3 separate regions of the Homo sapiens genome follow, and regions 1 and 2 are each linked to region 3. Evidence: fine-mapped expression QTL. A gene starts in region 3. Each other region holds a variant in brackets. All regions are shown on one strand. Distances are between the middles of the regions.

Region 1 (2,754 bases), 89 kb before region 3:
CTTGCTACCCCGCAGCAATCCCAGTGTGGCCGTCTGCTTGCTAAAAAATGGATCTGTGCTCATCTGTATTGATGTCCTTGGAGTTCTACAAGTGGAACTTAAGTGTCAAAAAGAATATGTGGTTTTTAGCTGAGCGTGGTGGCTCACACCTGTAATCCCAGGACTTTGGGAGGCTGAGGCAGGAGGATTACAAGGTCAGGAGTTCGGGACTAGCCTGTCCAACATGGTGAAACCCTGTCTTTACTAAAAATGCAAAAATTATTCTGGGTGTGGTGGCGGGCATCTGTAATCCCAGCTATTTGGGAGGCTGAGGCAGGAGAATCGTTTGAACCCGGGAGGCGGAGGTTGTAGTGAGCTGAGATCTCAACACTGCACTACAGCCTGGGCGACAGAGCAAGACTCCGTCTCGGGAACACACACACACAAAAAGAATATGTGGTTTTAATGTGCTTTGATGAGTACTGCCAAACTTACTCCACAGAAAAGGCCTCTTTCTGAACATCCTCGCCTGCGTTCTATTTCACCCACCGTGATGCCTGGCCTGAGGGCGGCGTGCTTGCTTGTAGCATTTCTTGAGGATTTGCTACTTGTTCACCTGCCTCTTAGGAGCACTGTGCCCTGCCTCCATGGAAGGGCTCTTCCGGCAGGGATGCAGGCTCACAGCGCCCTGGGGCTGGACACCACCGGCCGGAGCATGGCGGACAGCACACACGGCCCGGGGCGGGAACCTTGGAAACTTTACACAGATGGGGAGCTCAGCCATTCCACGTGTGCTTTCGCTCAGCACAATGCTTACTACAAACCCACGTGTACTTCCTTCCAGCTGGTTGCTTTTTATTGTTGCTGTCTTAAACTCCAAAGTTTTAAGGTGAATTTATTGAAACGTACGAAAATGCTCAGTTCATACAGGCTTCCAGGTGAACAAACTGTTGTAACCAGCACGTGGGTAAAAGGCAAGTTCCACATCACCCGACGTGGAAGCTCCCCGATGCCCACGTGCGCCCTACCCTGTGACCCTCTCCCATCCAGGGCCCTGATGCCCACATGCGCCCTACCCTGCCTGTGACCCTTTCCCATCCAGAGTAGCCACCACCTTAGCCACCAAGCAGAGATGGAACTGGGGACTTTGCATTTGGCGTCTGCCGTGGGACATTGCGCGAGCTCCATCCGTGCCGAGCATCCATCTCAGCCCCTCCTGGCTGCTGGGCTGCTTCGTGTTTGGCTTAGGGTCATTTTGCAGTTGTGTGCTTTGCTGTGGGTTGCATATTTAGGGCCCAACAGAACTGCTGGGTCAGGGATAAACATGTTCGGCATTTTTTTTTTTTTGAGATGGAGTCTCGCTCTGTCACCCAGGCTGGAGTGCAGTGGTACGATCTCGGCTCACTGCAAGCTCTGCCTCCCGGGTTCACGCCATTCTCCTGCCTCAGCCTCCCGAGTAGCTGGGACTACAGGCGCCCGCCACCACACCCAGCTAATTTTTTGCATTTTTAATAGAGACGGGGTTTCACC[G/A]TGTTAGCCAGGATGGTCTTGATCTCCTGACCTCGTGATCCGCCCACCTCGGCTTCCCAAAGTGCTGGGATTACAGGCGTGAGCCACCGTACCCGGCCAACATGTTTGGCTTTAAGAGGAACTGCCATACCCGTCTTCCCAGGTGGGGACCAGCCCAGTCAGCAGCAGGAACACCTATTCCCTCTTGACTCTTCCCGTTATCTCCTGCCACTCAGGTGACTGGGGTGGCTCCTCCCACTCAACGCCCCTCCCTCCTCCTCCTCCAGCCGAGGCCTCCGCCCGCACCCCCCACCACCCAACTCAGCTCGTCATAACTCACAGGCCGGGTCCAGGGTGCCAGGAATGCCACTGAGGCTGGCAGAGTCCTAAAAGGGAGTGGCAGGTGCTGCTCCACAAGGACGGTTGTCCACCCTCAATGAGGGCTGCAGGGCAACTGCTGACTGTCTGGCAGCCAGAGGACAGGGACAGGCAGCCACCCTCTTGCCATGACCACACCTGGGTCTCCCTCAGTGTGGCTCCCGAGGGGCCGTTGAACACAGTGTTGAGAACTGCTGAGAAAATCACACCAAAGACGAACTACCCACAGATGCCAGTCACCACTCCAGGGTGACGAGAAAGAGAACACACAGGCGGCAGCGTGACAAAATGAGTCCCAGCATGCTACATCTGGTTTCGGGTTTTATTTTAGAATTTATAAAATTCCAGTGTCATCCATATTCATGAGCCTTTACACATGTTTGCATATAATCTCCAAATTCCAAAGTTAAGGCCAAGGGATGGATTGTAGCTATGGAAACAGATGATATGGAAGACATCCAACAAGGAGGAAAAGCACACGCACGCCTCACCCCTGCCTCATCTCTGCCCAGGGCTGTCCTGACAGCACAGACGCTTCAGGGAGACAGGCCTGGGGACAGTCATGTCATCACCCTTGCAACAACCACCCAAAGGAAAAGAGAGCGCTGAACAGTTTAGGAAAGGGCTCGCGTCTAAGACATCAAGCGACATACAGAGATGTGCAAAACTTGGTGAGAATTAAAATTGACCTTTGGGAGAGGGTAGGGGCAGGATGTTTTATGACACTGTAGAAAAGACAGGAGGAACCCGCTGCGATGGAGATTGGGGGGAGCTGGAAGCAAGCAGCCAACAGGACAGAGTTCCAGAACTCATGCAGATGGGGAAGAGGTGACAGCCCTTCCCCACTGGCCTCCCCCGTGGAGGTGGAGTAGACAGATCCCGGGAAAG
Region 2 (2,754 bases), 58 kb before region 3:
CGGGCACCGATCTCACCCGGGTCACTCAAGTGTAGAGACAATAAGCATCTTCATCAAGGACAAAAAGATAAGGGGCAGAACCAGGCCTTAACTGAATCTCCAGACCCAAATCCTCATTTCTATTCCTGCCCATGGGGATTTGCCTCCTCTAAATCGTGTACCTTCTCCTCATAAATCTTCTTGATGCGAGCCACAGCCTGAGCCAACTGTTCCTTCTCTCCAGTGAAGACAATCTCTGTCCGGTTCACGCTGGGTGGGGGGATGTTGATGCGCGTGCCTGTCTCCTGCATGATCTCGCCAACCAGTCTATTATACGGCCCAGCGATGAAGGGGTGGAATGCCTTTTCTACTTCTAGCCTCTCCACAGCACGTTTGTCCTGGAAAGGAAGGGATGATCTGATGAGAACAGGCCTTTGAAAACAAACTGGGGACAGACAGGGCTTTTTAGAGTTGGAGTCAAGCCCTCCACCCCCACCACATTATGCCTTGAAGTCCACACTGGACACGGCAACCCATGAGGGAGTGAGGTCTGCACAAGCAGGTAGGCAGGGGCACGAGGCACTCACACAGGCCTCACCTGCTCGGCAGAGATGAGTAAGACTTCATGGCGAGCTTTCTCGATGCCCTCTTTGGTGCCAGTGATCTTGATCTGATTGCTGGGGTCATCTGGGCGTGGGATCTGGATTTTGGTTGCAGTTTTTAGCTCCAAGTCTTGCAGTTTCTCTCCATTTTTGCCAATAACAAAGCGATGGTGTTCTTTGGGAATGGCAACAGTTGCTGAGGCCTATAGCAAGAAGAGAATAAAAGAAAACAAGAATATTTGTAGGTTCTGAAGGAGCATATTTTTCCAAGACATTCTGGCAGAAACACCATCTTTGCTTATTCCTGCCCAGCAGCACCAACTCATCCATTAAAACAGCATGAGCTTAAACATCACATGCTTGGGGAAGGTTGCCCTGACTCCCAGGTTAGGGTAAGTTCGAGTGTATCTGCACCACTACTTAACATCCACTGGAATATACACCCACAAAGGGAGACAAGAGTTAACATCCACAAAAGCTGGACAGGAAGAAGCATGACTGCATATCCAGAAACCCTGAAAAAACTACTGGGTGAAATTCTATTTATAGCAAAGAGAAAAGACTGAAATCAAGAAGTTAACAACATTAACTTCCACAAACAACAACTACTTAGAAGATGTAATGAAAGAGATGCGTTTC[T/C]TTTTTTTTGAGACGGAGTCTCGCTCTGACGTCAGGCTGGAGTGCAGTGGTGCCATCTTGGCTCACTGTAACCTCTGCCTCCTGGGTTCAAGGGATTCTCCTGCCTCAGCCTCTCGATTAGCTGGGACTACAGGCGTGCGCCACCATGCCCAGCTAATTTTTATATTTTTAGTAGAGGCAGGGTTTCACCATGTTGGCCCCGATGGTCTCGAATTCCTGACCTTGTGATCCGCCCACCTCAGCCTCCCAAAGTGCTGGGATTGCAGGTGTGAGCCACTGCGCCTGGCCAAAAGATGTGTTTCTAATAGAAAAAAGGAAAAAAGAAAAAAGGACAAGAAAATAGCAAGACACAAGCCCAACACAAGGTGGAGTATGTGCATTCGAAATTAGAAAACACTCCTTAAAATAGCTAACAGAAGGTTTAAGTAGATGGCGATCATCCCAATTAACTTTAAAATATTAATACAATTTCAAACAGTTGATTATAAAGGTTGTAACACAGAACCAACAAAAATGAACAAGAAAACCCTGAAAAAGAATAGTGCAGGGTGGAGGTGTTAACAGTGGTCCTAGACATTAAACATGAAACCATTATCATTAACACAGGAAATACCAGTATACGGAAAGACCTGCTGGTCTGAACTGAAAACCCAGAAACAGAGCTAAGTTAATATAAACATTTAGGACATGATAAAAGCAGCCACTCAAGTTCACTAGAGCAAAACGTCTTTTCAAGACAGTGATGGCACGCCTGTAATCCCAGCACTCCGGGAAGCCGAGATGAGAGGATTGTTTGAGCCCAGGAGTCCAAGATCAGCCTGGGCAACATGGTGAGACCTGACTTCTACAAAAATTTTAAAAATAAGCTGGCCAAGGCCAGGCGCAGTGGCTCACGCCTGTAATCCCAGCACTTTGGGAGGCCGAGGTGGGTGGATCACGAGGTCACCAAAAATACAAAAATTAGCATGGTGGCAGGCGCCTGTAATCCCAGCTACTCGGGAGGCTGAGGCAGGCGAATGGCGTGAACCCGGGAGGCGGAGCTTGCAGTGAGCCGAGATCGCGCCACTGCACTCCAGCCTGGGCGACAGAGCAAGACTCCGTCTCAAAAAAAAAAAAAAAAAAAAAAAAAAAATTAGCTGGCCATGGTGACGTGTGCCTGTGGTCCCAGCTACTGGGGTGGCTGAGGCAGGAGAACTGCCTGAGCCTAGGAGGTTGAGGCTCCGGTGAGCCGTGATCATGCCATGGCACTTCAGCTTATGTGGCAGGCTGAGACCCTGTGTTACAACAAACAAAAAAATAGTGCTGACAACTCGAAAGCCGTATGGAAAAAAGTGAAACTCAATCAGTGCCTCAACCCTATTTGCAATAAATTCCAAATAGATCAGAAACTGAAATGTAAGAACACATTTACAAGCAGCAGAAGAAAAGATAAACTTTCTTATGACCTGATAGTGAAAAAACTTTCCTAACAATGACTCAAGATAATAAAAAATGCAAGTGGCCCTTATATATTGAAAAGGTGCTCAATCTTGCT
Region 3 (2,754 bases):
GTTTCATCCAGTGTTTCAGCATCCCAGATTTGCTTCCCTAAATGAACATTAAGCTTATTATGCAATGTGCCGCTACCAGGAGCCTTAGACAAAACCCTAATTGTGACTTAACCTATCTTAATAGGGTTTTAAGGAAGTTAGCTGCTAAGAAAGTGACTATCCTTAAGCAGACACCAAATAAATGTGAAGTCATTGATTGAGGGCTTAGGGTATAGGTAGCTATGAATCTGAGGACATAAAACGCAAAACTGAGGGGCAAATCGTCATGTTCCTTAAGATTACGACTCATCCACATTCCTTCAGCCGTTTAATTTCACCATAATAGGCACTGTTTAATAAGCAAAGCCCAAGTCGACTTCCTTCGATTTTACATGGCGTCCAAACACCATGTCAAGTCTGACCCTCTCATTTTTTAAGTCGAATGGAGAGGATATGTAGCAGCTAGCCTTGAGCACCTAACCACTTTTCAAAGGAGCTACGCACAAAAATACCCTAGCAACATGCCACGGTGTCAGAAAGGCTCAGGTTCCCAACACCATGCGGGTCAGCCATTAGGAACTCAGGAAGTGTTTCCTCTAAGCGGGGGAAACCTAGGAAGGCTTCCTGAACGAGGGGTATTTGCGCCAAGCCTTGACGTGAGTCTCGAACAGTTGCAGTGCCTCCAGGCCACGCGGGAGGGAGGAAAGGACACCCCGGGCCGGGGCACAACCCGCGGGCCGGAGCCGCCCGCGCCCATCCCGCTCAGGCCGCAGCCAGGCACGGCACCCTCCCGTCCCCGAGCCACGTCGCTGCTCGTGGGCTCGCGGAGCACTCCCCAGGTCTCACCTCGGGCCCCACACCAGAAGGAGAAAGCTAGGGGCCGCGCCAGCTCCGCCCTCCCCCGCGGGGCGGCGGGCCCCAGCCCGGGCACAGGAAGGCCACGTCCCCGGGGAGGGACGCCCGACTCGATGGTCTGCGCAGGGCCCGTCGGCCCCACGTGACGTGCGCGCAGCCAATCCCAGAGAGGCCCCCCGATCATCGAGACGGCGGCGGTGGTGGGCTAGACGAGTTTCGCGCGGCCGCTCGCCGTCCCCCGCCCAGTCGTACTCGGCGCCCCAGCTCGGTGCTGCCGCCATCTTCTTGGAGGACAGGAGGAGAGGCGAAGGCTCCCCCTCCCCGTGATCGCTCCGCACTCCCGCCACCACCTGCCCTCCCGCGACCGCCTCTCTCCTCCTCAGTGGGCACTTGTCTCCTTCTAACAAACGGCCTTCCCCCCACTCCAGTTACCCACCGCAAGGCGAAGATTCTCATTACCTGTTCCACTCTTATAAGCATAAGAAAACCGAGCTCATAAGGTAGGAACTGTGGCGAAACAGGGACAAGCCGCCATCTTGGTAAAGGAGAAGAGGCTACGCTTGACCTCCCCCCCCACCCCCAGCCTCTATATGGCCAACTGCCGTGGGAGGAGCACGGCGCTTGCGCAGAGGCGGACAACGCGGACGACTCTGGGCTTGCGCACTCGGAAGCCGGCCGCATGGGGGAGGGGAAGAAGGCCAGGTCGCACTGAGCCAGGAAGCAGTTGGCAAAGGGGCGGGGTGACGCGGTGACGCAATCCGCCTGCGCGCTGGGCGGGGCGGGGCGGGCTGGGGCGGGCTGTGAGCGGACCGCGAGCGCTGGGCGGGTCCGCGGCGCGGTCGGTCGGCGCCTGTTCTCGGGCTGTTTGGCGGGTGAGTGTCTCGCCGGTGTACCCCGCACAAGTTGTGGGCCGGCCCTCCCGAGGAGCTGCGGGGGACGCGCCGCTCGTCCCATACTCTCGGGCGGTGGTCGGCTGGCTCTGGGGTGCCGGCGGGGCGGTGTGGGGGAGGGGCGGCCGAGCCCAGGCTCTTCGGCACTTATCGTGGGCTCCCCCGTCCCGGGCGGTCCTAGTGCCGGCGACAGTGGCTCCGACACGGGCAGGCCCGGGCGCGGGAGTGGGGATTCCGGTGACCCCTTGTTGACCCTGCGGGAATTCCTCTGCACTGTCGTCGGTGCTGGGCCTCGGGGCGTCGAGTGCGGTCGAGGTCGGGAGGTTTGGTGCTTGGAGGGAGGATACAGGTTTAGGCCCGACAAACACTTAGAGCTTGTGTGGCCATCTTGTCTTTCTAACGGTGCCATTTCCTCCCTGAGGCGTGGAGGACTGGCCAGCCCCCAAACCTCCAAGCCCATCGGCTGGATGCCGTGGATAAGCGAGGGGAGAGCGACTAGGCCCTGTCTGCGGGTACCTTCGGCGAGGAGAGGCGACGAAGGTCTGCACCAGCGAGGCACGGACAGGCAGCAGGGGGTAGGGTATAGGGTTGGAGGCCGCCGAGTTGGCCCGGGGATGAGGAGCAAACCTGTGGCTTCCGTGGTCTCAGTGGAGTCCCAACTGTGACCTGGCCTACTGGCCCAGACAAACCTGGCTTGCTTTTTTACCTTTTCGGTCTAATTCTTGTCAGTGCCACCAGACCTTGTCCTCTCTCCACGGAAACACACGAACCAACTACACTGAACTTCTTGTAGTTCAAACTTCTGCACCTTTGGCCATTGCCCAAACTCTTAAATCTGGCTACTTCCCACCTTAACTGCCTTCTCCTTACCTAGTCTGTGCTTGTGGGATTCCGCCCAAATTAGATTTCCTCCAGACAGGCTTAGGTGTTTACCTGATGTTCCAGATGGTATTTGTCCAGTGGACTATTGGTGCTGTGAGGGCAGGGCACATGTTGTCACCCATACTCATTGCCTCGGTTGGTGTCTAGC

What was found.
Region 1: its variant is fine-mapped to the expression of SEPTIN2 in whole blood (TOPMed, PIP above 0.99).
Region 2: its variant is fine-mapped to the expression of SEPTIN2 in Th1 cells (Schmiedel 2018, PIP 0.95).

What each region holds. Positions count from the first base shown.
Region 1 is chr2:241,225,117-241,227,870 of GRCh38, forward strand. ANO7 (anoctamin 7) reads left to right here. Exons shown (of 25, transcript NM_001370694.2): 25 at 1-860. It overlaps HDLBP (high density lipoprotein binding protein), which reads right to left. Exons shown (of 28, transcript NM_005336.6): 28 at 2,175-2,754. LOC105376810 (a long non-coding RNA gene) reads left to right here and starts at 1,563. Exons shown (of 2, transcript XR_001739176.3): 1 at 1,563-1,651; 2 at 1,776-2,754. The variant G/A (reference allele first, on the strand shown) is at 1,510.
Region 2 is chr2:241,256,023-241,258,776 of GRCh38, forward strand. It overlaps HDLBP (high density lipoprotein binding protein), which reads right to left. Exons shown (of 28, transcript NM_005336.6): 6 at 578-784; 7 at 162-377. Among named protein-coding and RNA genes, the nearest start is that of HDLBP-AS1, 15 kb to the right of the region's middle. The variant T/C (reference allele first, on the strand shown) is at 1,221.
Region 3 is chr2:241,314,277-241,317,030 of GRCh38, forward strand. SEPTIN2 (septin 2) reads left to right here and starts at 1,649. Exons shown (of 13, transcript NM_004404.5): 1 at 1,649-1,706. It overlaps HDLBP (high density lipoprotein binding protein), which reads right to left and starts at 1,396. Exons shown (of 28, transcript NM_005336.6): 1 at 1,294-1,396. RefSeq lists enhancers at 372-421, 1,302-1,351, 1,372-1,471, 1,397-2,121, 2,112-2,171 and 1 more and silencers at 652-1,031, 1,572-1,921.